Homo sapiens: one gene and its partners. The protein of the gene in region 6 interacts with the protein of the main gene of each other region in a pairwise test. Each region holds a gene or a part of one and is shown on either strand. Other genes may lie near its edges.

The links.
Region 1: the proteins of DLC1 (region 6) and AOPEP interact in a two-hybrid assay, tested with the Homo sapiens proteins (one large-scale study listed by BioGRID and IntAct).
Region 2: the proteins of DLC1 (region 6) and TMEFF1 interact in a two-hybrid assay, tested with the Homo sapiens proteins (one large-scale study listed by BioGRID).
Region 3: the proteins of DLC1 (region 6) and TRMO interact in a two-hybrid assay, tested with the Homo sapiens proteins (one large-scale study listed by BioGRID and IntAct).
Region 4: the proteins of DLC1 (region 6) and STX17 interact in a two-hybrid assay, tested with the Homo sapiens proteins (one large-scale study listed by BioGRID and IntAct).
Region 5: the proteins of DLC1 (region 6) and BAAT interact in a two-hybrid assay, tested with the Homo sapiens proteins (one large-scale study listed by BioGRID and IntAct).
Region 7: the proteins of DLC1 (region 6) and MAPKAPK3 interact in a two-hybrid assay, tested with the Homo sapiens proteins (one large-scale study listed by IntAct).

Annotation. Positions count from the first base shown.
Region 1 is NC_000009.12:94,732,617-94,736,830, reverse strand, and holds part of AOPEP (aminopeptidase O), read right to left. Parts: intron 1-4,214. UniProt on the Homo sapiens protein: Aminopeptidase which catalyzes the hydrolysis of amino acid residues from the N-terminus of peptide or protein substrates.
Region 2 is NC_000009.12:100,479,501-100,483,714, forward strand, and holds part of TMEFF1 (tomoregulin-1 precursor), read left to right. Parts: intron 1-4,214.
Region 3 is NC_000009.12:97,908,773-97,912,986, reverse strand, and holds part of TRMO (tRNA (adenine(37)-N6)-methyltransferase), read left to right. Parts: intron 1-11; exon of another isoform or gene 12-1,969; coding exon of another isoform or gene 1,970-2,069; intron 2,070-2,370; coding exon 2,371-3,027; intron 3,028-4,214. UniProt on the Homo sapiens protein: S-adenosyl-L-methionine-dependent methyltransferase responsible for the addition of the methyl group in the formation of N6-methyl-N6-threonylcarbamoyladenosine at position 37 (m(6)t(6)A37) of the tRNA anticodon loop of tRNA(Ser)(GCU).
Region 4 is NC_000009.12:99,947,946-99,952,159, reverse strand, and holds part of STX17 (syntaxin-17), read right to left. Parts: intron 1,101-4,214; coding exon 875-1,100; intron 1-874. UniProt on the Homo sapiens protein: SNAREs, soluble N-ethylmaleimide-sensitive factor-attachment protein receptors, are essential proteins for fusion of cellular membranes.
Region 5 is NC_000009.12:101,360,671-101,364,884, forward strand, and holds part of BAAT (bile acid-CoA:amino acid N-acyltransferase), read right to left. Parts: intron 2,346-4,214; coding exon 1,758-2,345; 3' UTR 1-1,757. UniProt on the Homo sapiens protein: Catalyzes the amidation of bile acids (BAs) with the amino acids taurine and glycine. More than 95% of the BAs are N-acyl amidates with glycine and taurine.
Region 6 is NC_000008.11:13,501,180-13,505,393, reverse strand, and holds part of DLC1 (rho GTPase-activating protein 7), read left to right. Parts: intron 1-4,214. UniProt on the Homo sapiens protein: Functions as a GTPase-activating protein for the small GTPases RHOA, RHOB, RHOC and CDC42, terminating their downstream signaling.
Region 7 is NC_000003.12:50,644,249-50,648,462, forward strand, and holds part of MAPKAPK3 (MAP kinase-activated protein kinase 3), read left to right. Parts: intron 1-160; coding exon 161-284; intron 285-1,461; coding exon 1,462-1,537; intron 1,538-1,891; coding exon 1,892-2,016; intron 2,017-2,491; coding exon 2,492-2,577; intron 2,578-2,874; coding exon 2,875-2,955; intron 2,956-3,645; coding exon 3,646-3,798; 3' UTR 3,799-4,214. UniProt on the Homo sapiens protein: Stress-activated serine/threonine-protein kinase involved in cytokines production, endocytosis, cell migration, chromatin remodeling and transcriptional regulation.

The DNA of each region.
Region 1 (4,214 bases), on a different chromosome or scaffold from region 6:
ATTTTGAGTACCACAGTTGAAATAAGGTATGAGGAGAGCAGATGCAAAAAGGACCTTAATTCCATGAAGTGCTTTGCGCACTGTGGGCCCAAGGTAAGTACTATTAAACACTTTTATGGATATCATTCAATTAATGTAGCCTTTAAAAATAAAAAGAATTGGTTAAATATTTAAAGATGAAGGTGGTATCAGACCACCCAGTGATTTTTGTCATGCTGGGATAAAAATTCACAAAACATTTTAAACTCTATTAGAACTAATATAATTTATTACTGTCCATAAATATTTATGTGCTGGAAAGAGGATCTAGATTAATAGAGTTGGGTTATAGGGTTCGGTAGAGTAAAAATGAAGAGATTGGAAAAGAAAAGAAAATACAGACAAAAATACCAGCTTTTTCAGTAAGAGTTCCTCCTCCCCAGAAATGCTAAAGAATACTATTTTTAATAGAAACTATTTTGAAATATAGTCCTTAAACAAGTCATGTAAAAAGATTTTTTTCAATATCAAATGTTCTGCTATGAAGAAAAAGTAGCTGCTCTAGCTCTTAGAAGAATGTATTTCACTAGCCCAAAGAAATTACAGATACAGACTCCTCAAATCCATGAACAGAAGGGACTCTAAATCCAGTCCCCACTTCCTATAGGAATCCCCTCTAAGACACTCTACAGAATTATCCAGTGATGATTTGAAAAGGCCCAGATATAGTTAATATTGTTTTAAAAAACATACGCACAGCAAAACAACCAAATGACCATCAACTGATGAATGGATCAACAAAATGTCCATCCACACAGTGGAATATTATTCAGCTGTAAAAAGGAATGAAGTACTGAAGTACCGACATGCCACAACCTGGACGAACCTTGAGAACACCGTGAGACGTGAAAGAAGGAAGATACGAAGGGCCACATATTCTATGATTACATTTACATGAAATGTCCAGAATAGGCAAATCCACAGGGACAGAAAGTAGTTGCCAAGGACTGGGATAAAGAGAGAATGAGGAGTCACTGCCAATCAGTACAGGGATTCCTTGAGGAATGATGGAAATATCCTAAAATTATACAGTGGTGATGGTTGCACAATTCTGTAAATATACTAAAAATCAATAAATTATATTCTTTTAAAGAGTGAATTTTGTGGCATGTGAATTATATCTCAATAAAGCTGTTACTTTAAAATCACTCTCCTTGGAAATTTAGCACAGTGTTTCTCAAAATGTAGTCTGAGAACCACAAGCCCAATAAACAACGTTGCAGGTTGGGGGTGGGCTGGTGTGAGTGGTGCCTGTTAAAAATGCAGATTCTTGGCCGGGCGCGGTGGCTCACACCTGTAATCCCAGCACTTTGGGAGGCCAAGGCAGGTGGATCACGAGGTCGGGAGATCGAGACCATCCTGGCTAACACGGTGAAACCCTGTCTCTACTAAAAATACAAAAAATTAGCCGGGCGTGGTGGTGAGTGCCTGTAGTCCCAGCTACTTGCGAGGCTGAGGCAGGAGAATGGCGTGAACCCAGGAGGCAGAGCTTGCAGTGAGCCGAGATCGCACCACTGCACTCCAGCCTGGGTGACAGAGCGAGACTCCGTCTCAAAAAAGAAAAAATGCAGATTCTTGGACATGCAAGGATAGCAGCCAATAATCTACATTTTACACAGGATATCAAGATAATTTTTATGTATCTAGTGTTTCTGAACCAATGAGCTACTTAAACCAACTCTTGCCATCACAAAGCCATGAAAACAAAATTTCACTGGTCAATGCATATATAAATATTAATACAATCAAGGAATAAATATTTAAAACGAAAAAAGAGGCAAAGTGAAAAGCTCTCTTGTATTATAATCTGGCAGAATTTAGATTCCAGACCAGGGTGAATTGTAGCCACAAATGGGGGTATTCTCCACCTACAGGAACAATGTTGCATGTTACTGGTATCTATAACTGAAGCTGTTTTTTCCGTCCTTCAACTTGAAACAGCATTCCCTGCCATCCCTATATAAACATCAGAAGATGTTCTAACATATAATGAAGTTTTCACTCATTCTTTCCCAATATTTTGACTTTGCCACTACAATTAGGTTGAATTGGCTGGGCCAGTGGTTCAAACACAGACTACTGGGCTCTAAGAATCTGCATTTCTAACAAGTTCCAATATTAATATGCTGGTCCAGAGACCAAACTTTGAGAAAAGGCTTAATCTAACTCTGGTCTCCTCCCAACCAGTACTATTTAAAATCCACTGTAGAGTTCAGTGATGCTAAAAATGGCTGCATCTGGCAAATTCTCTGGCCACTTACTGCAGGGCTTCCTGTGTAGGACTCTTGCTGTTAAGTATATTGAGGAAATTCTCATTATTGAAAACTTGTATATGGGTGATTAGCAGGCCTTTTCTTGGCAACTCCAAGTATAAGCAGGCTTCCTTATCCCTCCCCCAATTGCTGGCCTCTGTCTGACCTTACAACTCCCACTTCCTACACTGCACCAACCATCTTTCTGTCCTTCTCTGTAGGACATTATACTTCCTATAACAGGAAAAACTGTAGGAAGGGCAAGAGGTCCCTCTGTTCCTGTCTTAGGCAACTACACTTCCTTCAGCCAGAAAGCAAGACAAGCTCCCCCACCCTAGGATTTATTTGGTGATCATGTTCCCGGCGCTGCAGCTGTGCAGATAAACTCGGCGGGGAGCACTGTATCTAGAGGCAAAATAAGCTCAAGTATAAACTCAGAGGATTGCCAAGGCCAGTAAATAAATCAATCAATAAAAATAAATAAATAAAAGGCATTCAGATCTCAATATTTATATTCTAGTTCTTTGTGGGAATAAATATAGAACGCACATTTCTCCATTCAGAGGAAGATCCAGACTTTACACACTGCAAATGGGTGCCCCTTTCTCTCTAAATGGTTTTGAATCCACCTCATCAAGGTTTAAAATATACTCCCAGCACCAGATTCTATGTGGTAAACTGAACATGTATTCAGTTCATCCTTGCCAAGACAAAATATTTCAACAAATTCCTGGAAATTGAAAAGCACCTGGGATTAAGGTAAGAAAATGCATTTGGTATAGCTTAAATATCTTTAGATCTTCAGGAGCTCAATCATCTTTTAAATTTAAACAGGCAACTGACACTTAATTTGTAGGTCATATTGAAATGAATTAGGAAGTTTTAAAGGTAAGTTTCAACAGTTTATTTTCCTTTAAGATTCCATTTCTTATAAAGGCTAAGGTATATATGCTGAAGAAAAAAGTGTAAACCTAGAGAACAAATACAGAACTACACCAATACAGAAGGAACCTAAGGGTATGTTTAAAGTGCTTGCCATGAGCTGGTTACACGGTGCAAATACTACATAACATTACAATTTGCCATGTGGTGTAAAAATAGGAATTTCTAAAACCATCATAAGAAAATGACTAGGCCAGATGCAGTGGCTCACACTTGTAATCCCCGCACTTTGAAGGTCAAGGCAGGTGGATCACTGGAGCCCAAGGGTTCAAGATCAGCCTGAGCAACACGGCAAAATGTCATCTCTAAAGAAAATACAAAAAATTAGCTGAGCATGGTGGTGCGCACCTGTAGTCCCAGACACCCAGGAGGCTGAGGCAGGAGGATCGCTTGAGCCTGGGAGATTAAGCTTGCAATGAGTTGTGATCATGCCACTGCACTCCAGCCTGGGCAACAGAGTGAGACACTGTCTCAAAAAAAAAAAAAAAAAAAGAGAAAGAAAATGATTAAACACAGCATATACAGTAACCATGATATTTCCAGAACCTGAAATACTCTCTTATTAGAAAAGATGTTATGCCATGTTCCAAAACAAAAAAAAATTTGTTATAAACTAACTGTCAAAGTCCTTGGGCATCCACTTGCTCAAACATGACCACTGAAGGATCTTGACTTGGCCAAGATTGCAGACAGCACAGAGACTGCTGCAGATAGGACACAGACAGATCTGTGCTATCTGCCACTAGAGAGCAACTGCCAGAATGTAATGCTGCTGCTTTTTAAAGTGTTAAGTTATTTGATAAAACATAGTCTTCTGTCATGCTCTTGAGTTTATATTCTGTATTTAGTATAAATGTCCATTTTCATGGTCTGGAGAGAACAACCCATTTCTCCTTTGATGTGCCAGATCCTAAACACCAAAACAAATCAGGTCCGTATGAAATCCTAGTCATCACTCTTTCTTGAGGTAATATCTTTTTC
Region 2 (4,214 bases), on a different chromosome or scaffold from region 6:
AACCTCATAGCTATTAACAGTCATTCCACATTCCTCGCCTCCCCAGTCCCTGGTTACTACTAATCTACTCTCTATGGATTTGCCTATTCTAGATATGCATGCAAATGGGATCATATGAGGTGTGTTCTTTTGTGTCTGGCTTCTTTCCCTTAGCATAATGTTTTCAATGTGCATCCATGTTGTAGTGTGTATCAGAACTTCATTCCTTTTTATGGCCAAATAATATTCCATTGTATGGATAAACCACATTTTGCATATCCATTTCTCTACTGATGGATATTTGAGTTGTTTTTACTTTTTGGCTGTTATGAATAATGCTGCTGTAACATTCATGGACAAGTTTTTTGTGGACACATGTTTTCAGTTCTGTTGTGTATGTATCTAGGAGTGGAATTGCTTGGTCATATGGTAACTCTGTGTTTCACATTTTGAGGAATTACCAAACGGTTTTCCAAAGTGGCTGCACCATTTTACATTTCTACCAGCAATGTTTGAAGATCCTAATTTCTCCAGCATCTTCTCCAACACTTGTTATTGTCTGTCTGTTTGATTTTGGCCATCCTAGTGGGTGTGAAGTTATGTATCAATGTCGTTTTTATTTGTATTTTCCTAATGGCTATTGATATTAAGCATCTTTTAATGAATGTATTGGCTATCTGTATATCTTCTTTGGAGAAATGTCTATTCAGATCCTTTGCTGGGCTTGATTTTGACATCTTGGAGTAATCATTCCCTTAGTAAATCATACTAATCAGTTCCCACAGCAAGCACAGAGATGCTCAAATGCTAAGTTGGCTCTCGTTTGTCATTTGATTTTTCTGCTTACTAAGCAAGAGTCAGTTGTATTTGTTTTCAAACTTATTTATACCAGTGGTAATTATGAGTATAATTTAATAAATATTACTCAAATCGATGAAATATGAATACAAAAAGTTGTTTTTATGAAATGCTTTGAAAAGACTTGATAAAGACAAGAAGCTGAAAGAATTGCCTCTGAACGAATTAAATTATGGTTAAGACAACTGAAACAGAGTGGAGAAACCCTGTAAACTTTTGGAAGGATTTCCCAGAAAACACTGCAAGTATTTTTAAGCCCCTGTTCTACTTAAAGGAAAGGAAAATGGACATTGTAGATCTAATGGATTATGGGTGTGATTTATCTAAGGAAGTGGGGAACTGTGTTTGGCAGACTTACACTCAAAAAAAAGGTCTTGGTGCTACATTGGGAAATGAATGTATAATTATGTATTTAAGACTAAAATGGCTAAAATAGATATCATTTTAAATGGTTTCTGCCTTAACTGACTTTTTTGGTTAATAGATCAATGATCACTCTTGTATATGTTTGAAAAGAGGATTTCCACTGTACAAGGTGCCCTGAGGAAGATACAGATGTGGTGTCATGGGAATGTGTAATTCTGATTTGTAGGAATCAAAACTGGTTTCATGGAGTAAGTGGCACTCAAGCTGGGCTGTATGGGGAGAGTAGAATATCACCTAGAAACAACAGACGCACTTTTGCCTGAGGCCTTTGCTGTTGATGTTCCTTTGGCTTGGAATCTTCTTGTCCCAGTTCCTACAGTTGTTTGCTCTAATGTCACCTTCAGTGGTGCCTTAAATTACAGCCTTCTCCACCTTCCATCCACAATGTCTCTCTCATATCCTAATCTTCCTTCGTGCTTTTTCTTGCTCTAGGACACCTTTTCCTGTGTGACATACTATACGTTTTACTTGTTTTCTGTCTCTGTATGTAGCTCTATGAAGGCAGAGATTTTTATCTGTTTCGTTTACCACTGTATTGACAGTGCCCAGATTGGTGTCTGGTACGAAGTTAGGTTCCCATTACATATTTATTTGTGGAATAGATTAATGGCTGAATGAACATAGAAGCTGAACATAGATGAATGAACATAGAATACCTCTTAGGAAGGGTATTCTAGGCTGAAGGAATAGCTTTAGGAAAGGCACAAAGGTGGAAAAGAGAAGGGAGTCTTTTCGAAATACTAAATTGCGGGGATTAAGGCAGGAGATTATGCCACCACATTAAGGTCTTCAAGGCCCATCTGAAGTTTTGGCATTTGGTTCAAAGACATCAAGAAGCTTTTAAAGGGTTTGAGTGACATTATGGTTTTAGAAAACAAAGTCTGAAATTGGTGAAGATGGAATGGAGAAGGGAAGAGCCTGGCGGTACGATGAAAGATAATGGTAGAAATGGGAAGAATTGAGAGGACTTGTTTAGCCTGCACAGGTTTTTTGTTTATTTATTTATTTATTTTTATTTTTAATTGTTGTTGTTTTTTGAGACGGAGTCTAGCTCTGTCACCGGGCTGGAGTGCAGTGGCATGATCTCAGCTCAGTGCAACCTCCGCCTCCCAGGTTCAAGCGATTCTCCTGCCTTAGCCTCCTGAGTTGCTGGTACTGCAGGCGCATACCACTACGCCCAGCTAATTTTTGTATTTTTAGTAAAGACGGGGTTTCACCGTGTTGGCTAGGATGGTCTCGGTCTCCTTGTGATGTGCCTGCCTTGGCCTCCCAAAGTGCTGGAATTACAGGCGTGAGCCACTGCGCCCAGCCTAGCCTGCACAGTTTTTTAAAAAAGTTACATTGGTTGTTAGCCATTAAAAATCTGGAGGTTTCACTTGGCAATCTATTTTTCTGCCGACTCTTCTTCTTCTTCTTTTCTTTTCTTTCTTTCTTTCTTTTCTTTTTTTTTTGGAGACAGTATCTTGCTCTGTTGCCCAGGCTGGAGTGCAGCGGCTTGATCTTTGCTCACTGCAACCTCCACCTCCCAGGTTCAAGCGATTCTCCTGCCTCAACCTCCAGAGTAGCTGGGATTACAGGTGCACGCCACCACGCCTGGCTAATTTTTGAATTTTTAGTAGAGACGGGTTTTCACCATATTGGCCAGGCTGGTCTTGAACTCCTGACCTCAAGTAATCTGCCCGCCTCGGCCTCCCAAAGTGCTGGGATTACAGGCGTGAGCCACCACTCTGGCCTGCATTCTCTTCTAAACTTGGAGGTACTGTCAGCATTGGGCTTTTATTTCCACATTGCAAAAATCAGTCAGTGCTGTCTAGTGAGGCATGAGCTCTTTACTTTGCCCAGTCCTCAACCAGCCAGCCTCTTTTATTGATCTTTTTCTGCCTAAACTTCTGGATCTTCTGCTAGAGATGGTGGGGTGAGTTGTGATGCTCTTAATTTGAGATGGAGAGCCTGTTTGGAGGAGAGTCAAATTGGTGTACATTCCCTCATTCCTGTTATTCACAATTATATGTTTGGATGGGAGACCTTATTTCTCCAGTGCCTAGGTGTTTTGGTCTGAACTCCTCTCCTGCCTGTACTCCTTGTAACTTCCACTGTATTGTTCTTCTTTTTAACTCTTTCCTTGAATCCACTTCCTCCTTTGTATTTGAAACCTACCCTGCTATCTCTGATTATACCATTGTCCTTGAATCACTCTCTGATGTTTTTATGTCTATTTTTTTTTCTTAATTTTATCCCTTAAACTTTCCCTTTTGTCTCTTTCTAAATTCTTTAGGTGGATATAGATCATTATGTTTCTTTAACTCCATTGTCATTTATGATAAAATTTCTCTCATTGTTGTGAAACACATGAATTTATATATGTTACAGATGGGTTTTTTCATGATTTTGCGTTATGGTCTAAGAATGTGTCATATGGAATCTCTGGGTTTTCATATTAAAACTAGGTGCGTCCAGGCACAGTGGCTCATGCCTGTGATCCCAGCACTTTGGGAGCCCGAGGCGGGTGGATCACCTGAGGTCAGGAGTTGGAGACCAGCCTGGCCAACATGATGAAAACTCGTCTCTATTAAAAATACAAAAATTAGCCGGGCATGGTGGCGCATGCCTGTAATCCCAGCTACTCAGGAGTTTGAGGCAGGAGAATCGCTTGAACCTGGGAGGTGGAGGTTGCAGTGAGCCGAGATCGCACCGTTGCACTCCAGCCTGGGCAACAAGAGAGAAACAACATCTCAAAAAACAAACAAACAAACAAACAAACAAACAAGGTGTGTCATTGTATTCTAGTATGAAAACAAATTTTGTGAAAGATTCTTCTATCCAGAAGAGTTATTTCCTTGACTTCTCAGTCTCCATGTTATATTAACTATTATTTTTACTTAAGTTTACTTTATTTTCATGTAATTTCAAACTTAGAAAAATGTTGTAATAGTACACCCAGATTCCCCAAT
Region 3 (4,214 bases), on a different chromosome or scaffold from region 6:
CTTCCTTGCAGCCTTGGGGAAATGGACAGATATCATGGCTGCAGTGCTGATGTCAACTGTGCTGTGTGGCAGGAGTCTGGGATGAATCACACTACAAGGACAAACATTGGTCAGGTTGTAGAAGTTTTAAACTAGTTTTAACTGTGTGTTCGTATATAACCTAGTTACGCATTTATGGAAAGCATTCCATTCTGACCTAACAGATGCATTTGTTATAGAGGCAGCAGATGAAATGGCAGGTAAACTAGGAGTCAAGAGACCATTCCAGGCTTCAGCCTGCTGGTTGTGAAGTGGGCAAAGGAGAAGGACCTGCTTCCTCTGTGATTCCACAGAATATTTTGAGAATCTTGTAAGAGAGAAGTTCTAAAACTACTTTTTCAGGCTATTGGACACTAAATAGATGAGAGCAGTTATTTTGCTTGTTCTTTCCCAGAACTTGAACTCTCCCACTGGATTGTACTCAACTGGGCCTTAGGTAGTTTTCTCAGAAAAATTCAGTAGCTGATCCACCTTGAATTTTATCAATTTGTAATGGCTAACAAACTTGGATAGCAAGTACTAGAAGATTTTATGATTATTCAGGGACATATTTTCTAGCACTGAATATGTGCCAGACATTGTCCTAGGTGCTAGAGCTATAGTGATAAACAAATCAGATGAAAGTAGAAATCCATGCCCTAAAGAACTTAATGTTTCAATTGGGAAGGTCAAGTCAGATAGGTTAAAAGGCAAACACAGTAGCACTGTAGACATTACTATATAAGCTTTATGGCAACTAGTGTTTGTGCAGTGCTTTACAGTTAGTAAACAGTGTTCACGTACCTTATCTCACAGTGGCTTTGTGGGTTTGACAAAGTAGCAATCCTCATCTCATAGGTGAGGAAACTAGGGCTCTTTAAGATTAGATAATCTGTCTAATAGCATCCAGCCAGGTGGTCATCTGACTCTAAATCCTTTGAAGTCTTACTTATGCTACAGTGCCTTTCTTTTTCCTACAGATATTGTTAGGCATAATTCATCATCTAGCAAGTCCAGAATCATCTTTCCAGAGTTCCAGCTCATTCATAATAACATGTTTCAGAAATCAGGGTCCTGTATTAGTTACGTTTTTCTTAAATGGAGACGGAATCAAATGTGACTGCATGTAGTTTTTCTGTTCTCATTTGGCCTATTTTCCAAGAGTAAGGTTAGTAGATGGCTATTTGTAGCAGTAACTGGACAGCATCTGTCCAGTGGGACAGCTGGAGACTTGTCTTTAGTATTTGGTAATGCTGACTTATGTGCTGCTTAATCTTTTGAGTCTTGATGGATGTATTAGATTTCTATTGTTGTGTAACAAATTACCACAGAATCATCAGTTTAAACAACACACATGTATTATGTGTTTGAAACATTATTATGTATCTGTGGGTCAGAAGGATGGGCACAGCTTAACTAGGTCATCTGCTTAGGTCTCACTAGACTGCAATTAAATTGTCAGCTGATATGAGTTCTTATCTGGAGGCTTGACCATGGAAGAATCTGCTTAAGCTCACTCAGACTGTTGGCCACATTGATTTCCTTGCCATCGTAGTAGGACTGGGGGCCCCAGATTCTTGCTGGTTGTTGGCTGGAGGCTGCCCTCAGTGTCTAAAGGCTGTTTGCAGTTCCTTGCTATGTGGGCTTCCTAGCACGCCTGCCTACTTCAGCAAGCCTTCAAGGAGAGTCTCTCGAGTGAGTCTTCCAGCCAGCAGCAGTGCTAATGAAAAGCATAGTCACTGGAGGGACATCATACCTCTTTTGCCATATTCTGTTGGTTAGAAGCCAGTCACACTCAAGGGGAAGGATTATATAAGGGCATGAACTTCAGGAGGTGCGGGTCACAGGGCCACTTTTGGATCTGTTTGCCACAGTAAGAACCTTCATTGGTCCCACAGAGATATACTGAGGACTACTATATCCCTGGAACAGAAGCACCAGTGATACAAAGATGAGTTGGTCCCAGCCTGTGTTAAGGGGCCTGCCTGCGTCTAGGGATGAAGACTCTAAGCAGGTCACTACCCTACCGTGGGGAAAGCGCTCTAGCAGAGGTTTGTGCACAGGCTTCTCTATGGGGACTGTAGGAAAGAATGCTTTTGTCTGGAGGAGCCAGAAAGGCTTTGTAAAAGGTGTGCTTTTGAGGGCCTCAAAGAGCAAGTAGGAGTTTGATAGGTAGAGAAGAGGATGGGCTACCAGGTAGCAAGAAGGGTGTGTGTTGGTACTAGGTCTGTGTGAGAGAATTATGAGTAAGTGCAGTGAGGCGTAAGCAGACAGTGTTAGAGGATTCTGGGGCGTGACTGTATTCTCCAAGTGTTTGCACTGTTCTTCATTTTTCACGTTTTTATGTCATAGGTGGAGCTATATACCTTTCTGGAATTGACATGATACATGGCACACCCGTACTAGACATCAAGCCCTACATAGCTGAGTATGACTCACCGCAAAATGTGATGGAGCCTTTAGCAGACTTTAATTTACAGAATAACCAACATACACCAAACACTGTGTCCCAGTCTGACAGCAAGACTGACAGCTGTGACCAGCGACAGCTCTCAGGGTGTGATGAGCCACAACCCCACCATAGCACTAAGAGGAAACCTAAATGTCCTGAAGACAGAACTTCAGAAGAAAACTACCTGACACACAGTGACACAGCCAGAATTCAGCAAGCATTTCCTATGCACAGGGAGATAGCAGTGGATTTTGGTTTGGAATCAAGACGTGATCAGAGTTCCAGCGTGGCAGAAGAACAAATTGGCCCATATTGCCCAGAGAAGAGCTTTTCAGAGAAAGGTACAGACAAGAAGCTAGAAAGAGTGGAAGGAGCAGCAGTCTTGCAAGGAAGCAGGGCAGAGACACAGCCCATGGCCCCTCACTGCCCTGCTGGAAGGGCTGATGGAGCTCCCCGCAGCGTGGTTCCTGCCTGGGTGACAGAGGCTCCTGTGGCCACTTTAGAAGTGCGGTTTACTCCTCATGCCGAGATGGACCTTGGGCAGCTCAGTTCACAAGGTATCTTCAGTTTCTTCATTCTGAATGAGAGATGAACTTTTACTTTGAGATTTAGCCAAGTTTGGTATTTGTGAAGGCAGGTATGTGGAGTGTTTGTCAGTATGACTGGTTTTTAGGAAACAGGTATAAAATAATATTTTTGCAGTACCATCATGTGATGACTTTTGTTGGACAACTGTGTGGTCAGCACAGTTAGTTCCAGGCTGTCAGTAAAGCATTGGCAGAGAGTGGCTGCTGCCTCACAAGGTGGCCTATGACTTACAGCCCCTTGTCTACTTGCTACAGTAGTTCTTAGAGTCTTCAAATATCATTCAGAAGCTAAATTGTGCTTGTTCTATACTTATGTACATAAAGTTTTCTTATTTGTTTTACTGTCTGACTTGAGAAATGTTGCATTGTATTCTGACTGTCAGGTAGTCGATAGCTCAGCCTCTGGCACAGAGGACTCTAGGAGCCCAGAGTCACAGGGGAAGAGTCTCTTAGCACAGAACTTGCCCCAACAAAGTCCCACTGCTAGAGGCATACACTTTGCTGCAGAAGAGAGGCCACAGGGCTCTTACATGGAGCCTGCTTACTTTAACACATGGTTCTTAACAAATGTTATCTGGTTTCCCCAGCCCACAGCAGATCCCAAGCAGTAGCCTAGGATGAAGGAAGGGGCTGTTAAGATGTGGATACAGCGATACCAGTAAGAAGTAACTAATTTCAGGCTGGGCACGGTGGCTCACTCCTGTAATCCCAGCACTTTGGGAGGCTGAGGTGGGTGGATCACTTGAGGTCCGGAGTTCAAGACCAGCCTGGCCAACATGATGAAACCCTATCTCTATTAAAAATCCAAAAAGCCAGTTTTGGTGGCAGGTGCCTGTAATTTCAGCTACTCAGGAGGCTGAGGCAGGAGAATTGCTTGAACCTAGGAGGCAGAGGTTACAGTGAGCCGAGATGTTGCCACTGTACTCCAGCCTGGGTGACAGAGTGAGACTCCATCAAAAAGAAGAAGCTGGTTGCCAAGGAGATGTCAGATTGCAAAAAGCTGTTCTTTGTGTTACAACTCAGTAAGGAGCCAGCATAACCATATAAAGAGGGAAGTTCATTTATTCATTCTACAGTTGTTTACTGAGCTTCTGCTAGGTACCAGACATTGGTCTAGGTTCTTGGAATACATCAGTGAACAAAACAGATATAAAAAA
Region 4 (4,214 bases), on a different chromosome or scaffold from region 6:
CCACCTTTTCCGTAAGGATTAAAGGTAGCTTAGAATAATTTATAAAATATAACAAGATGAGACAAGTTACTAACAAAAGAGAAACACTGAAACAAAAAAAGAAAACAAGGGCAGTAGTTATAAAACAAAGCTAGGATAGGTTTAAAAATCTGACTTTTGGTGGCTAAAAATTTTGGCTCTAAGCTTTCTAGTAAACAATTTAAGTAGGAAAACCTTATCAGTTATTCCATTGAATACCCAAAAGATTTTAAAAAAAAAGACCAACTACTTTGAAGTACTACTATGTATTAAGCCAAGAATATTTTCAGAATTAAAGACATTATTATAATGTGATCAGCAATTATCAATTACATCCTTAGAAGAGATGTAATGACAAATTTCACAGGGCTGTTTCTTAGAGTATCACTTCACAGAAGATGATGGCTTAACTCCCATTGTAGATTACTTAATGTTGTCAGTTATTCAGAGAACTTGGCTGAAAGATAGATCTAACATCCCCTCTGAAAATCAGAATGCTTAAGAAAAAAAAGCATGCCTGAAGAGGTCACCCCTGCACCTGGAAAGGAGTAAAGAGTACTTTGCAGACAAGAATGACATTATCCTTAGGAAATATATTTAAATTTCTCTTCAATAAATAGACAAACGGGTACTTTCCCTGAAGTCCCACTCCATAAGCATAGCCTTAAATTTTTTATTCTGCAAAATATCCAGGGTACACATTTCCAGGAACACTGATCAGGGTCCAAGGATTCAGCATATTGGGATAGTGAATGGTCTCTGAAGACCTATAGATAATTCAGTATCTACTCAAGGAGGTGATCTTTAATTAACTGCACTACTGTGACTGAGAATAAGACTTAGCACAATACATTACCACCAACAGTCATGGATCTGGTCAAAGGAGGCTGTAGCAAAGTTTCTTCATCATTAAATTGCTTCTTAAGTTCTTCTACAGATTCCAAATGGAGTTGGAGAAATTCTGCTGTTGCTGCTGATGCTTCTTCTTTAACAGGATCTATCATTCTCTTCAGAAGTACTAGGTCATCCTTTCGGACTTTCAAACAAAGTTTCTCAATTTCTCGGATATTGGATCGGAGTTGCTATAAAAGAAAAAAATCATTAATGCCACCATTTCTTAGTATAAGATATCTTTCTTTTCAGAAGTAATGTTATAATAGTTGTGGATGGAAATTATAACAAATATCTCCACAATAGAAGGTGTAGCATAATACTTTTACATTTTCCATGTCTCTGGCTGGCCAAATGCAGCATCTTTGGAACCCACATGCTCATACTTTGAATTTATTTAGCATTTTTCCTTCATTAAATGTGGTTATACAAAAATAAATGCTCTTCACAATAAATCAAACACTACAGAAGCATATGAAATAAAAATGATATTCTCACTTCACCTATCCCACCCCCTCTTAACTCAATACTCCCACACATTTCTCACGGCTCATGCACACATTTAACATATATAAGGCTTCTCCCTTTTTATTAAAAAATGGATTACATTATACACAGTAATCTATAATTTGCCATTCCATACTCAACAATATTATCCCTCCTGCTCAATGGTTACACTATATTCCACGGTGTAGTGTAGAATAATTTACTCAGTCACTCCTTCGGTGATCAACATTCATGTTGTTCCTAATTTTTAGTTATTACAAACTATGAAACAAATATCCCTGCATATAAGTCCTAATTTACTATATTAGTATATATTAACATTATAGTATACACTAATATTAATATATTATTTTGTGTAGGAAAGACTCCCAGAAACAGGAATATTCAAATGATAATGTGCATTTTTATTTCAGAAGCTATTGTTGTTTTTTTCCCAAAAAGCAGTAACACTTCACACTAGCATCAAGGTATGATTGCCTATTTCTTCACATGCTGCCAGTCCTGCATGTCATCTCACTGTTGCTTTACTCTGCACTTCCCTATGAATGAAGTTGTTAGATTTTTATCAAATGATTTTCCTTCTTTTTGAGAAATACCTACTGGCTTAGTTATAAATTTACCTCTAATATGTTGCTATAATGAATTATGTACAGATTTTGTAGTGTAGAGTCATCTTTATATTCCTGGGATAAAGCCTTTCTAGTCAATATATATAATTTTTAAATACAATGCTGAATTCATTTGCTAGTATTTTATTTGAAACTTTAGCACATAGGAGTGTGTGTGTGTGTGTGTGTGTGTATACATGTGTGCATGTACACAGTTTGTGTATTTATACTATCTTTACTAGGTTTAAATTTGCTTTAACAGGTTTAAGGTTGTGCTAACTTCATAAAATATACTGGGGAGCTTTCCCTCTTTCTCAATGGTCTATACTTTGAAAACAAAGAAACAATCCCTTTAAGATTAAATAGAACAAATTTGCAAAAATAATCAAAGTAAGAAAAGTTATATGTCTATTCATATATTTTAAATTATTTTCCCCTAAAGTGTTTTCACAATATTAATGCAAATCCTACACAGTAGACAGACCAGTTAAGTAAGAATTAATTTTTCAAGTGCATACTCTGAGTGAGGTGTTACATTATTACAGTCCAAATTATTACATATGGAAAAAGCAAACAAAAAAAAACCTGTTTAGGATTTACTTAAGTTATCTAGTGGCAAAACTGGGGTTAAAACCCAGATATTCCGATAGGGCCAGCAATCTTTCCACTAAACTATAATAATAATGTCTATCTATGTAGTATCTTAATATAATACAATCTAAAGTTTCCATTTTACTGTAGTAAAATTAAAGTCAATTCTAGAAAAAAAAATAGTTTAGTTACAACCTAAAGCATCTTGTAAGATTTTTCTGGGTGAAAAAATTGTGCCTCTATCTTACCATGACTCTATACTTCCTGTAACCTTATCTTCAGTCTCTTACCATTCTAATATGAGCTGAAAAACCTAAGGATAATTAAACTGTAGATTCAAAATATGTGAAATGTAGGTATTAATATGTTAAAATTATATAACCTTAAAGGGGGCATAAGTGAGCATCTAATACAACCTCACAATTTTACAATAAGGAAACTGGAGTCTAGACAAACACAGTGGCAGAATTTGGACTACAGCCCAGGCCTCAAGTCCCAGAACAATACTGTTTCCAACACACCACCATTTCCTGGCTATGTGACTCCTTTCTGGACCATAATTATAAAGCTTGGTTATATAGTTACCAGTCTACAGAAATATTTTAGGTAATATTATCTTGGAGAAGCATTAAAAATTTTCTACAGCCAAACTTAATGAGCATTTGTTTGTGACACCTTCCTCACTTATGTAATTTGTACATATGTCTGTCCCCAGTCAAATTACAGTATCCAGCTAAGAACTCTATTACTATGAGTAATGTGGAAAATTTTGAGGGAGAGAAAGAAAAAACCCACTGAAGTATAAAATCTGATACTATAATAACAGCAACAATGATAACAAAAACATAAATAGTGGCTAAATTTTAATCAACACTTAAAGTTATCGATTGTGCTAACAGCTTTACGTCTTTTATCTTCCCCTCACAATATATCTTTGAAATGGATATTACTATTATTCTCATTTTATAGAAGAGAAAATTAAAGCAAGAAGTTCAAAAAGTAGCCCAGGATTACACTGCTAGTAAATAGTATAGGCAAGAATCAAATCCAGACCACAGATCTTGTGTTCTAACTACTTTATTACATAGCAAACACCATCCAACACAAACATAATGCAAATCACACACACAAGCCACATATGTAATTTAAAAATTTTTTAAATTACATTAAAAAAGTAAAAACAAGGGAAATTAATTTTAATAATATTTTATTTAACCTAATATAGCTAAAATACTATTTTAATATGCAATTATAAAACTTAAAATCTTTTACATTGTTTTATTTGTAGTAAGTCTTAGAAATCTGGTATATATTTTACATTCACAGCACATCTCAGTTCAAACTGGCTACATTTTAAGTGCTCAACAGTCACATGTAGTTAGGAGCTACTACATTGGATAGGGCAACTAGGGAATCTCTCTAAAATCAAACAGAGGGAACAGGATGGTAAAACCATATATGAAGAACATAAAGTCAGGTGTTTCTGCTTCTGAAAACAGCAGGCTAGGTGATTCAGACTAACCTTCCCACTAATGGCTACTTCAAAAGTTGAACAAAAATCAAATCACAAAACAAACCAATAGGAAAAAAAAAAAAAAC
Region 5 (4,214 bases), on a different chromosome or scaffold from region 6:
GTACCAAGCCATGAGGGTCCACCCCCATGACCCAAACAACTCCCACCAGGCCTCACCTCCAACACTAGGGATTACATTTCAGCATGAAATTTGGGCACAACAAATATCCAAACCATATCATCATCTCTAATCATGAATAAGTTAAAATGCCATCATTGTAGCTATGCAGCCAAATGCAAACAAACACTAAAAAAGCACTTGCTTATTCATACAGGAGTGAGATCATTTAGCTGTGACTTTTTACACTTGGAGAAAACATGTAAGAAAACATTTCTTGGTGCACAAGAAGGATAAAAATGCAAATGTATGGTATGTAAGATCATGTTAGCAGCCAGTGTTGGAGTAAGACATGGATCTTGACCCTATGGTTTTTGTGTAGACTGTTCCAATAAATCACAACCAGGAAGGCCAGCAAGTGTAGATGAGAGACAGGATACAGAATCCCTCATGATAAAGACTATGAGGAGAATGAAGTAGGAGAAGCTGATGAAAAGTGGGTGGATGATGGAGATCAGAATGATCCATCTCAATGAGATGAATTAGCAGATGTTTGTATGTCTCTAGATATTTAACTGACCCACTATATTCCTCAAGGATACTGCATTTGGACATAATACAAATTGGCAGTTTGGAATGTTGAACTTAAAGTCTTGCAAAATGTGGTACATGCTAGATGGTAGTTATGTTGCTATGAGGACTATATGATCAAAGCCTTATAGCAAAAAAAATTTTTTAATATTTGCAAAGGACTGTACAGCAAACAACCATGTGGTTGAATTACATGCAGTCCTCATATATTCAGTTGGTTAGCAAACTAAAGTATTTTTTATTTATGGGATGTACAGTAACTATTGGGTCTTACGGAAATATAGTACCTGTCCTTATAGAGCTCACATTCATGTGCTACTCTAACATGACTGAAGAAATTCATTATGGAAGTACAGTGATAGTTGACCCAATCACTCAGTTTATCAAACTCCCCAGGCTAGCCTGTACTAGTAGAGTTGTGTTTCTATTTTTATTTTTTACTTTTATTAATTTTATTTTTAATACAGATTTTCAGTAAGGGGCATTTTCAACCTAATTGGTTCTATTTTCTTGTATTTTCCATTTTAATTTGCTTCATAACTTAAACCAAGGCTCTTCCAGTCTTAGTTATTATGTCTCAGTTATGTGCCAATGGGCATGTTTTTAAGAACTGAAGAGGTAATTTATTGCAATGAACTAACTGACCTCCTCCATTCCTTCTTTCCTTTTTGACATGAATTTTACTACCCCACAAATGAAAAATGATGTTGCAAAGTTACTGTGGTGAAGTTGAAAAATATCACTAAAATGATTATAATTTAGTATTAATTTTCTCCTGCTGCTCTAATCTGATAAATTCTTACTATATAGTGTTTTCTGACATGGTATTTGGTTTTATATCTGTTACTTTGGTGCTATTCTTGTTTGCCTTTTCTTATTTTTGCCAGTGTACTATACCTCAGTCCTATTTAGAAGACCTGATGGAAAGAAAAGTCATGTAAATAATAAGTAAAATGATTTGTTTTATGATTTATTCACCATGTCCAGTTTGGTTAGCTTGTTATGCAGTATAAGTGAAATATCAGGTTTTTACCCTATGCTCTTTTTAATCATTAAAATTAATACAAAATGTGTGTGTGGCAGCTGGGGGAGACATTCCGCCATGAAAATTGAGAGAAGGTCCCGGTAAAGAGATTTGCTTCTTTATTTTCTAGGAATATCTAGTCTTCTTAGAGTTGACTGGTCACATCTGGAATGAGGTGCTTCCTGAGAAATCTCTGGATCTCCTTCCAAGCATGTTCCTGTGCAGCTGCGTGTGGGATCACCTCTCCTCCCCAGTGTAACCTCAAATCGTGGGTCGTTGAGGCACAGCACAGAGGAGAATAGGGAGGTTCTATCAGGTGGCCTGCCCCAGGGTAAGATAGCAGGGTCCAGTTGTTCTTCCCATGTCTCTTCAGCTGTCCTATGGCTTGTTCAGCGTGTGCTTTGCTGTTGATAGTCTTATCACCTTCTCCTACAATGAAGAGGAATTGCCCCTGGGCCTCTTCAATAGGAAACAAATATTGACTGGCCCCAACTTGAGTTGTCTCAAAAGTGCGATAGAGCTCTAGTAACCCCAAGGCATTGGTGGATATTAATTGTGCAGAATGGGGAAGGGGCTGATGGATCTGACCATGATATACCTGTGGAATGCCAAAAGGAAAGTTGGTCCCATTAATAAGTACCGTGGCTGTGACTTGCTTTAGGTAAATAGCCATAGATAGTCCAATCTGTACTCCTTGACATACAGAGACTACCCCAACGCCTGAGCCAAAGACCTGAAAAAAATAATAGAAATGAGAAATTATTCTAGCCTTCATTTAGGAAAACTCCACAATCTCAAACAACCAAAGAACTTCACTGGCTAATGAGAACAAAGCAAGTATTAATCCTACCCACATCCCTAGCTATAGAGTTCTGGAATATATAATATGTATTCAAAAGAAATACTCCAAAAATATGTCAAGCTTTACCGACTATATATTACGGATTCAGTATTGTGTTAGGTTCTGAGTTTAAAATGCCCTAAAGAAATGCAAATGTCGCAGGGAAAGTAAGAAATGGCACATGACTATTGTGAATAATGTGGGTCAGGGTATAGATGATTGGTACACTTTCCTCCCTTCAGAGGAAAGGGCACCTTGTAGGAAGAGACTGAGAAAGAAAGTGAGATCAGTAGGATAGAGTTGAACAGAGGATTCTAGATTTGCTTTGTTTTTTCCAAAAGTTTTCTCATTGTGGAGAAAAATGTCATAAAGGAGGCTTGGCTCAGCTTCCTCCCTCATTGTCAGTCATCAAATAAGCATCCTTAAATTATCTATCCTACGGCAAGCACTGGGAGTCACAGAGAGAAAAGGAACAATCTCTTGTCATTAAGGAACTCACTGCCAGATGAAGACACAGGAGGAAAAAAAAAAACACACCAGATGATTGGAGCATCATAAATTCTATGATATGAGAATGTATGTAGGCTAGACTGCCAACCCAGATTAGCAGGGAATAAAGGCAGGATCAAAGAAAGGCTCTCAGAGGAAATGGGCTACAAAACAAATGAGTCTTCGTATTAAAAAATGAAAGCCAAGCCTGGTTAACATAGTGAGACCCTATCTCTACAAAACTAAAAAATTAGTTGAATATGGCGGTGTGTGCCTGTAGGCCCAGCTACTCAGGTTGAGGTGGAAGGATCACTTGAGCCCAGGAGTTCAAGGCTTTAGTGAGCTATGATTGTGCTATTGTACCCCAGCCTGGGCAATAGAGTGAGACCCTGTCTCAAGAAATAAAAATTACAAGAAAGTCAACAAGAAGGAATGGTATTCTATGCTGAGTATAGCAGACTCTGTTAGTTGCCTACACAGGAGCCATTCTCCACAATTTCAAAGCTAATATGACCTTGATTTTGTGTGGCATAGCAATATATCCAGCCCCAAGGGATAAATTCTGATGGATCCTAATCTATTTCCCTTTCTCAGCCTCTCTTCCAAGGCCAACATATTCTACCTAAGGACTTTTTTTGCCCCCCGTGCAAACTGACACAGAATCATGAAGAGAAAGCCTATGTTTATGATCATTCTTTTCAGACTAGGATGCTGGCCTGTTGACTTAATTCCTGAAACTGCCAGAGTCATTTTGTGACCTTCAGAGTAAGGCTAGAAAATTGCAGAAATGTCAATCTAATCTCCTTGATTGAAAACTACACTGAGTTTCTAAGCCAAAGTTTGAACCACCTATCACCAAACCTGTTATGTAAGAGAATAAGATACCTTATGCTGATGTTTAAGCCACCATCAGCCACTTTTCTGAGAAATGTAGCCAAAACATTCCTAATGTATTCACCATAGGAGAAACTCATGCAAAAACTGAGAGGCAATGAAGAGCAAGGCATTTAGAGGAACCACAAGTCATTCTTCATTATTTTAATTTAGAGTATAAGGTGGGAAATAACATAATAAGTCTGAAACAGAAAACACCAACTTTATGGTGCATAGCTTTGAAAGATATATTAAGCATCTTCAGTTTTTTTCCTAACTAAGGAGGAAAATTAGGACAAATTTTAAGGATGGGCATAAGATAAGACTGAATAAGTATGCAGAAGTCAGATCATAGGAAGCTTTGTCTAACATGCTAGGAAGCCTGGCCTTTATCCTATA
Region 6 (4,214 bases):
ACTCTGTATTTCTAAACAATATGATTGTACTATGATTTTTTTTTCTATTTTAAACATTATCTGTTAACTTCCTGCTACAGAAAGTGACTATCTCCCTTAAATTATTTTCCCTGCTCTCCCTAATCTCACTCCTCACAGAATCCTATGCACTGAAAATCATTGCTTCATATGTTTTGGTTAATTTAATGTTTACTATTTGCATTATTTTGACTACATGAAAAAAATTAGCCACAGCTTATGGAGTATACTATAATTATATTTTCCTTCTTGTAAAACTATTTTTCCTGTGGTTGATAATTGATATCCCTAGTGTTCTCTATAACTATTAATAATTCTTCCATCCAAATTGCTTGACTTTATTATAAAATTCCTCTCAATATGTCATATATAATTTATTATTTCCCTTTTTTTAGAGACATCTCCCAGAGACAACTTTAGGAGTTATGTGAAATGATTGACCACTGGACTTGCTACACAACTTTTATCCTGAAAATTCTATACCTTCCTCACTTGTGCTGAATTCTTGGCTTCCTTTTGCCATGTCTTTCCCACTGTGTTTATTTTTTAATTTGGGGTTAGCTATCTCTCCAGTAGCTTTTGAGAAGAGGTTAAAAAAAAAGTAAGACTTTTCATATAATTTTAAGGCAGACATAATTTCCCATCCAAATTTTGAAGTCGTATTTGCCTGTCGTCTTCCCTGCACTGTTACTTTTGACAAATCTGATACCATTGATTCCCAGCTCCTAATATATCATCTCTTTTTCTCTTTCTCCGATTACATTTAGAACCATTTGCTTACCTCCTATGTTCTGAAAATTCACAACGACATTTCTTACGTGGTCTATTGTTCTTTCTGGTACCATTGCATCCTCATGAGTTCCCTTCAATCGGAAGACTTGAATCATTTGTTCTGGAACACATGCTAAAATTGTTTTCTTTGAAAAATTTCTTCTCTTAATGTTCTCTGAAGGCCGGGCGCGGTGGCTCACGCCTGTGATCCCAACAGTTTGGGAGGCCGAGGCAGGCGGATCACCTGAGGTCAGGAGTTTGAGATCAGCCTCACCAACATGAAGAAAACTGTCTCTAGGAAAAATAAAAAATTATCCTGGCATTGTGGCACATGCCTGTAATCCCAGCTACTCGGGAGGCTGAGGCAGGAGAATCACTTGAACCCAGGAGGCAGAGGTTGCAGTGAGCTGAGATGGCGCCATTGCACTCCAGCCTGGGCAACAAGAGTGAAACTCTGTCTTAAAAAAAAAAAAAAAAAAAAAATTCTCTGAAATGTTTCTGATAAATGTTACCCTCCAAGGTAACTAGTGAGTTTTCGAGTTGCAAGCAATTCTCTGGAATTTATTGTTACCTCTGCTATCTTTTCCAAAGAGGTAATTCTAGAATAGTAGAAATCTGAAGCCAGAAAGAAAGGAAGATTTCTTCTATCCAGTAGGAAACTGTACCTCAAATACCATTTGACTTGAACGTTCTGGAGGCAGAAAACTTACCACAGATAGATAGATATTTACCACAGATAGATATCTATGATAGAACTTTCTTTGTAACTATTATCCTTGTCTACAGGAGTTTCTCCCACAAAATTGGTAAGCTTCAGTAGCAAAGGTAGACTATACAATTCAGGTTTATATTCCTAATGTTTAGACAAGTTTCTGCCACTCACTGGGTACTAAATAAATGCTTGATGAATAGTGATTATGAACTAACTACTGTCAGTTCTACAGACTGAACACTTGATTTCAGCCAGTGGTACTTCATCTGCACCTTGCTCTCTCAGGCTGTAGAATCAGCAGTAGTAATTATTATCAAGCTCTTCTTTTCTAAGAACAATTGGCAGGCCAAATTATAAGGTGGTCTTCTATTTCAGAGACAAGTGCAAAAATAGAGCATGATCATTTGATATCAAATATAGATCAGTGATTTTCAAACTAGAATGTCTCCAATTGTTAAATACGGTAACATTTAATTTGTTTAATTTATTATTATTTTTTTTTGCTCTATCACCCAGGCAAGAGTGCAGTGGTGCGATCATGGCTCACTGCAGTCTTGACCTCCTGGGCTCAAGCAATCCTCCCACCTCAGCCTCCCAAGTTGCTGGGTCTACAGGTGCACGCCACCACTCCTGGCTAATTTTTGCATTTTTTGTAGAAACATCATCTCTCTATGTTACCCAGGCTGGTCTGAAACTCCTGGCTCAAGTGATCCGCACACCTCAGCCTCCCAAAGTGCTGGGATTACAGGCGTGAGCCATCATGCCCAGTAATTTTGTTCAACTTTAATGTATATATTGTATGCTATAAAACTCTTACGTTAAGGCATGGTAAGTGTTACAAAATTAACCCAAACAATGAATTCAAAATCATGCACGAATATCACAAATTTGGAAATTTCAAAAGTATTTTCCAGAATCATAGCATCATTAGAAGTACATACAGTCTCTTGTGATGTTAATGTCACGGTGCTTGAACACATGAATTTAAGAAGTGAAAAATCCCCATGGAAATTCACTTCATAAAACCAACATCCTGAAATGACCTACAATTTTCCAGATCCTCCATCCAAATCCTCAGCAACTGAGCTCATTCTGAATGAAACTGCATGAATAGGATTACAAAAGAAATGTAATAGAAATCTGAAAAATAAGTAGTCAGTTTTTTGAAATGTAATTTTAAATAAGGCGGCCCAGTGAGGAGGCTCACAGGAGAAGTCAGTCTTTTACAAAGATTTCTCTCTATTAGGGGATAGATTATAATCAATTCAGATGATTTAGGAAATGAGACCTATAAACTCAGATGTGATTGACAATAATCTAATGCTCCTATTTATTAATAATCTGGTCTTTAAATCATAGAGACAGATTTAACTATAAATCTTACAAATCAAAATTTAAATAGAAACTGGATAGGAGAGCTTGCAGACATTCATTTTTTTAAAAAAACTATCAGACCACATGACATGGAATGAATGAAGATGCCAAATGTAATAATGATCGTTATGAAAATTGAGAAATTGCATATCTTAAAAATAAAAGTGTACACTTACAGAAATGATTTGGAAATGTTGAAAGCACCTAGATTAGAAATGAAAGCAAGAAGAGTTAATGCTTTATTGGATTTATCTTATTTATAGTCTCTCTTTCCAGTTAGATTGTCTCAGAACTTGTTGAACTATCTTCCTTTGATTTGACAGAAATACTTACCTACTTGTCAAGGTTGAGTGACAGAAATTAATGAATATTATTGTCAAGTCTTAAAGGCAAAATTTTTGTGTAATTCTTTTTGCCTAAAAAGTTAATAAAACTATATTTCTTCTTAGTAAAAGAAATGAAACCAGAATTCAGGCTCAACTTAAAATATAAATGTGGCTTAGGAGTGACATCGTAATACCACTTGGTATTTCTTAAGTGAGCCGGCTCTTTCTACACTGGATAAAAATAAAGAGAGAAAAGTATCTAAAACCCTATTACCTCCCAAATGTGCCCATGAAAGCAGAAATTTTCTGGCTTGCATCTATGTGTTCTTTCCACTTTCCGTAGCCTCCCACGTTATAATGACTTATGCATGGAATTCAGAGATTTTATATTTTCTTTTGAGTGCAGAGTGAACGTCAACATGGAAAATGTGAAGGCTGACCACTTTTCAAGATGGCCACAGACCTCTGAGGGAACCAAATAGTATCCAGAAAGATACTTGGTCAGGCTGGGATACTAAAATTCTAGCACATGTCAATTTCGCCAGTTTTTACAGACTGGAAATATTTACCTCTCAGGCATGTGCTTAGTCAGAACAGCTCGAAATTTTTGTTGGGGAGTCAAGGCCCTTTACAATAGAATAGACTAAAGAGATCGAAAATCAGTATAGCAGTTAATCTTGTTTATAGCAGAAATCAGTAACTCAACCCATGTTGTGTGCTGACAGTTCTCGTGTGAAGTAAAAACTAAAAGTGTCTGCTCTGTGAATGGGATTTTTCTTTTACAGTCCAATAATATAGTTTCATTGTGGGGCAAAATTTGGGTTAGTCATTTTTATAACGTTGAGTTGACACTGGTATTATTTCTTTCCTTTAACTAAGGGTTTGAAGAATTCAAGGCAAAAATTTGGGTACCTGGTATGTGTTTGTATTCTAAGCTTGTCTTATGCATGATTTTCTTGTTTACTTAAATTTTATGGCCATATTCTAACAGAAATATGCAAACTAAACTTCTT
Region 7 (4,214 bases), on a different chromosome or scaffold from region 6:
ATTTGGCCCATGTTAGTGGGCAAGGCCCGGGTCTTTTTATAAATGGACCTGGCTCCTTCTGCACTGGGATGGAGTCGGGGAGTCTGGCTGAAGATCACCTTGGGGCTCTGCTCCTGCCTGGTTCCTAACTCCAAACCAATGTTTTCTCTTTCTGGCCCAGCCTGAAAACCTACTCTACACATCTAAGGAGAAAGACGCAGTGCTTAAGCTCACCGATTTTGGCTTTGCTAAGGAGACCACCCAAAATGCCCTGCAGACACCCTGCTATACTCCCTATTATGTGGGTGAGTCCTTCGGACATGAGTTGTAACTCCTCACCCCAACTTATACAGCTGTATTATGGGGTAGCCAGTGGGTTGCAGAAACCAAAGGGTTAAAGCCCAGCAAGGAGGGAGGGGGAGAATTCTGTCTGCATGGAGGCGGGTGACGTGGGGGGCCGGAGGCTGCAAAAATATTCTCCCAAACTTCAGCTTCTGCTTTTGAAAATAGATCCAGGAAAATTCTGGCTGTGGCCTGTGAGCTGAATGACATCACAGCAGCTCTAAATATATATGTGATAAAAGGCTGCCATCAGCTTGGGACGGAGCCCAACCGCGGTTGTTTTTCTCTAGTTTTTGTCTTCCTGGGATTCATATTCAGAAAGTGGGCATGCATTTCCTCCTAACTTGGAGGGACAAAGGGTACCAGTCACCTGCCTTGTGGGAGACGGTCACTAAAGCCAGGGCTTGGAGGTGTGCACATACTCATGCTTCCTGGAAAAGTTCACTGCCCTTCTGCAAGTGGGCAACCCCCGGATCTGAAAATGTTCCTTGCCAAAACTGCCCCCTAACCTGAGAGTGGGGTGATGACAGAGGGCTTTTCTCCCTCAGAAGAGGTCTTCCTGGAGGGCTGCTGAAGGGGTGGGAAGTTCCCTGAGACAGTTGAAATGGCACTCTGTTAACTAGGATGTGTTTTGCACTAAGTATTTTAACTTAGAAATCTTCTAGCCTACCCACCTCATTGCACAGGGAAGACAAAGGCTCCATGGATTGGTAGCCAAGCTGATGATGGAATGCAGAGCCCTGTCCCTGGTTCTTCCTTGCCTGTGACCTAGGCTATGCATTCAGGGAGGCAAGGGACACAGGACAGCTGGCAGGCCAAGACCCTCTCACCTACGGTAGCTTCCCACCAAGCCCCAGACTGGCCTTCTCTTCTCTTCTTTCACCAAGGTTGAGACTGGTAGAGGGGCTCAGGCCCAAGGGAGCTAGGGGTATGTCTGAAAGTGGTTGATTTTTTTCCAGGAGCTTTCTCCTCCCCCAACTTCACACACATGCTGCCTTTCCAAAAGGTGCCAGACGCCAGTCTGCTCTGCCCTACCTCCCAGCCCAGGTACCTGCTCCCCACCTTGCCCAGGCTTTAGGCTCCTGCCTGGGCTCCAAGACCCTTGGGTCTGAGAGCCCTGCTGTCCCTCTGCCCTGGCAGCCCCTGAGGTCCTGGGTCCAGAGAAGTATGACAAGTCATGTGACATGTGGTCCCTGGGTGTCATCATGTACATCCTGTGAGTACCTTCCCCACCCCCTGCCTCCATCTCCTGCCCTTACCCCCACTGTGAGCCCTCAGGACCACTTCTGTCCCCCCACCCCCATGTCCTTGGTGAGGAGCTTGTGTGTGTCACTCCTCATGCAGGCTGCCCTTCCCTTTTGGTCATGGGACACCACTCCTTCAGGTGCCTGAGGGTCTCCCCATGCCAAGGGCTGATGGCATTCCTGGGATGTGCCTGGGAGTCCGGAGGGCTGGTATTATTGCTATGGTGTCTGGTTGTCTGTCTCCCCAGTCAGGGGCTTTTGAGGGGAAATGGGTCCACCCTGGCACTGCTCCCACCCTATGCCAAATGACTTACCCCTTCCCCCAGCCTTTGTGGCTTCCCACCCTTCTACTCCAACACGGGCCAGGCCATCTCCCCGGGGATGAAGAGGAGGATTCGCCTGGGCCAGTACGGCTTCCCCAATCCTGAGTGGTCAGAAGTCTCTGAGGATGGTGAGTGAACCTCTCTGTCCCAGCCTGACTCACCTGGCCCCTGCGGCTTTCATTCTGGGAAACATCACTTTGGTGTCAAACTGACCTGTGTTCAAATCTTGGCTCCCCCTCTTTCCAGCTATGGGACCCTAGGCAAGTCCCCTAACCTTCTTGAGCCTCAGTTTCTACATCTGCCAAACAGGCTCAAAACTTGCCTCCTCAAAACTCCCTCTAACTCCTATTCCTCATTCATATTTTCCCCTTTGAGGACCACAAACAAGGCTGCCCTGTATGAGTTATCTACTGCTGCTTAACCAATTATCCTGAACACTTAGTGTTTCAAAACAAGAAATAGTTGTTAGCTCACTCTTTCTGTGGGTTGGGAATTTGGGAGCACATGCAGCCCCTGCCCCAGCAGAGCTTGTGGTCTGTGGGGAAGGGTGGAGGGGCTGGCTCTGCAATCTCATCTCTCCCCTCTCTTCCCTGGCCCCCCTAGCCAAGCAGCTGATCCGCCTCCTGTTGAAGACAGACCCCACAGAGAGGCTGACCATCACTCAGTTCATGAACCACCCCTGGATCAACGTGAGCCCCTCCTCCTCCCATGGCAGGCAGGGTGTCCAACAGGAGTGGGGCTGCCGGGCAGGAGGGTGGTGGCTCTGCTTTGAGGCCCCAGTGCAGGGCTGGAATGGGCCCATGCACACAGGTAGATACTAGGGCCTCACCTACAACCTGGCTTTGTCACTGCCCTAGTGAGGCTCCTTCCCCACCCTGAGCCTTGGTTTTTCCATCTGAGTCTGGGAGAAGAGGATGGAGTAGGGGGAACCAGTGCTGTCCCAGGTGCCTCCAGTTTCTAATCCACGGGCGTGGGGCTCCTTCCAGCAATCGATGGTAGTGCCACAGACCCCACTCCACACGGCCCGAGTGCTGCAGGAGGACAAAGACCACTGGGACGAAGTCAAGGTGGGTGGGCTCTGCCTCAGTCTCAATACAGGTGCCAGGATTTGGGCAAAAGGGACTTCAGGGGGGTGGCTACCCAGGGTCTGGGGTCTTTGGCCCCTTTCTATACCTGGAGCACAGGGTGTCAGTGACTGTCGCAGTGGTCCAACCATGGCACTCCAAGGATTGGGCCTCACTACGCCATTCAGTGTGGTGCTCCTGGCTCACTTCCTCAATGAAACGGGGCTTTGGTACCAAGCTTGGATGATGACCTCTCTTATAACCAACAACATTTGGGAGGGTGGTCAGCCTGGTTTAGACCCAGCAGAGGCCACGTTTGAACATATGGAGTAGCAGCTCCAGTGGCACAATCTCCAGGCCCCAGTGCGCTGGTTGCCCAGCGAGATGGCATTCTCTGCAGGTCTTGTGGTTCTGTGGTGGAACTGGTTTAGTTCACTATCCCACTTACCCTTGGTGTGGTCCGAGGGAGTAACTCTCCTTTTGTGCCTTAGTGAATAAGCTCAGTGTCTACCACAGAGGACGGTAGTGAGGATCATGTGATGCAAAGGGCTTGGCCCAGTGCTGGGCACACAGTGGGCACAGAGGCAGCACAGGCTGTCACTGACATTAAGGGGCTGCCCAGGCAGGGGGGTGATGGTTCCTAAGGTCAGTACATCCTGACCTCTTAGTGCCCACCATCCTGTCTGTCCCCAGGAGGAGATGACCAGTGCCTTGGCCACTATGCGGGTAGACTACGACCAGGTGAAGATCAAGGACCTGAAGACCTCTAACAACCGGCTCCTCAACAAGAGGAGAAAAAAGCAGGCAGGCAGCTCCTCTGCCTCACAGGGCTGCAACAACCAGTAGCTCATGGGGCCTTGGAGGAGCCTGGCCTCTCAGCCTGCATAACAGACTGAAATGTGCTCAGGCCCTGGCCAGGAGGGCCCAGGGTCATTCTTTTAACAAAAGGATTATTTTGTTGTGTTTTAATTTGTCACTCGGAACTTCAGGATGGAGGACCCTGACCCTAAACCTCCTTCAGATCTCTGGCCCAGGCTCAAGCCCTAGAGATGGGCAGGGCCTAGGGGCTGGGAGCTGCCTGCTGCCATAGCAGCACCTTTAGCTAGGTTGGCCCGAGTGAGGCCTCTGTGCTGTCCTGCCCTGGTGCATGGCCTTAGCTTTCTAGGCCACTGGGAGTTGTGGCTGGGCTTCCCATCTTCCACAGAGACATCTCCCTGTGGGATGGGCAGATGGGCCTGGCCTTGAGAAAGGCATTGGCCATT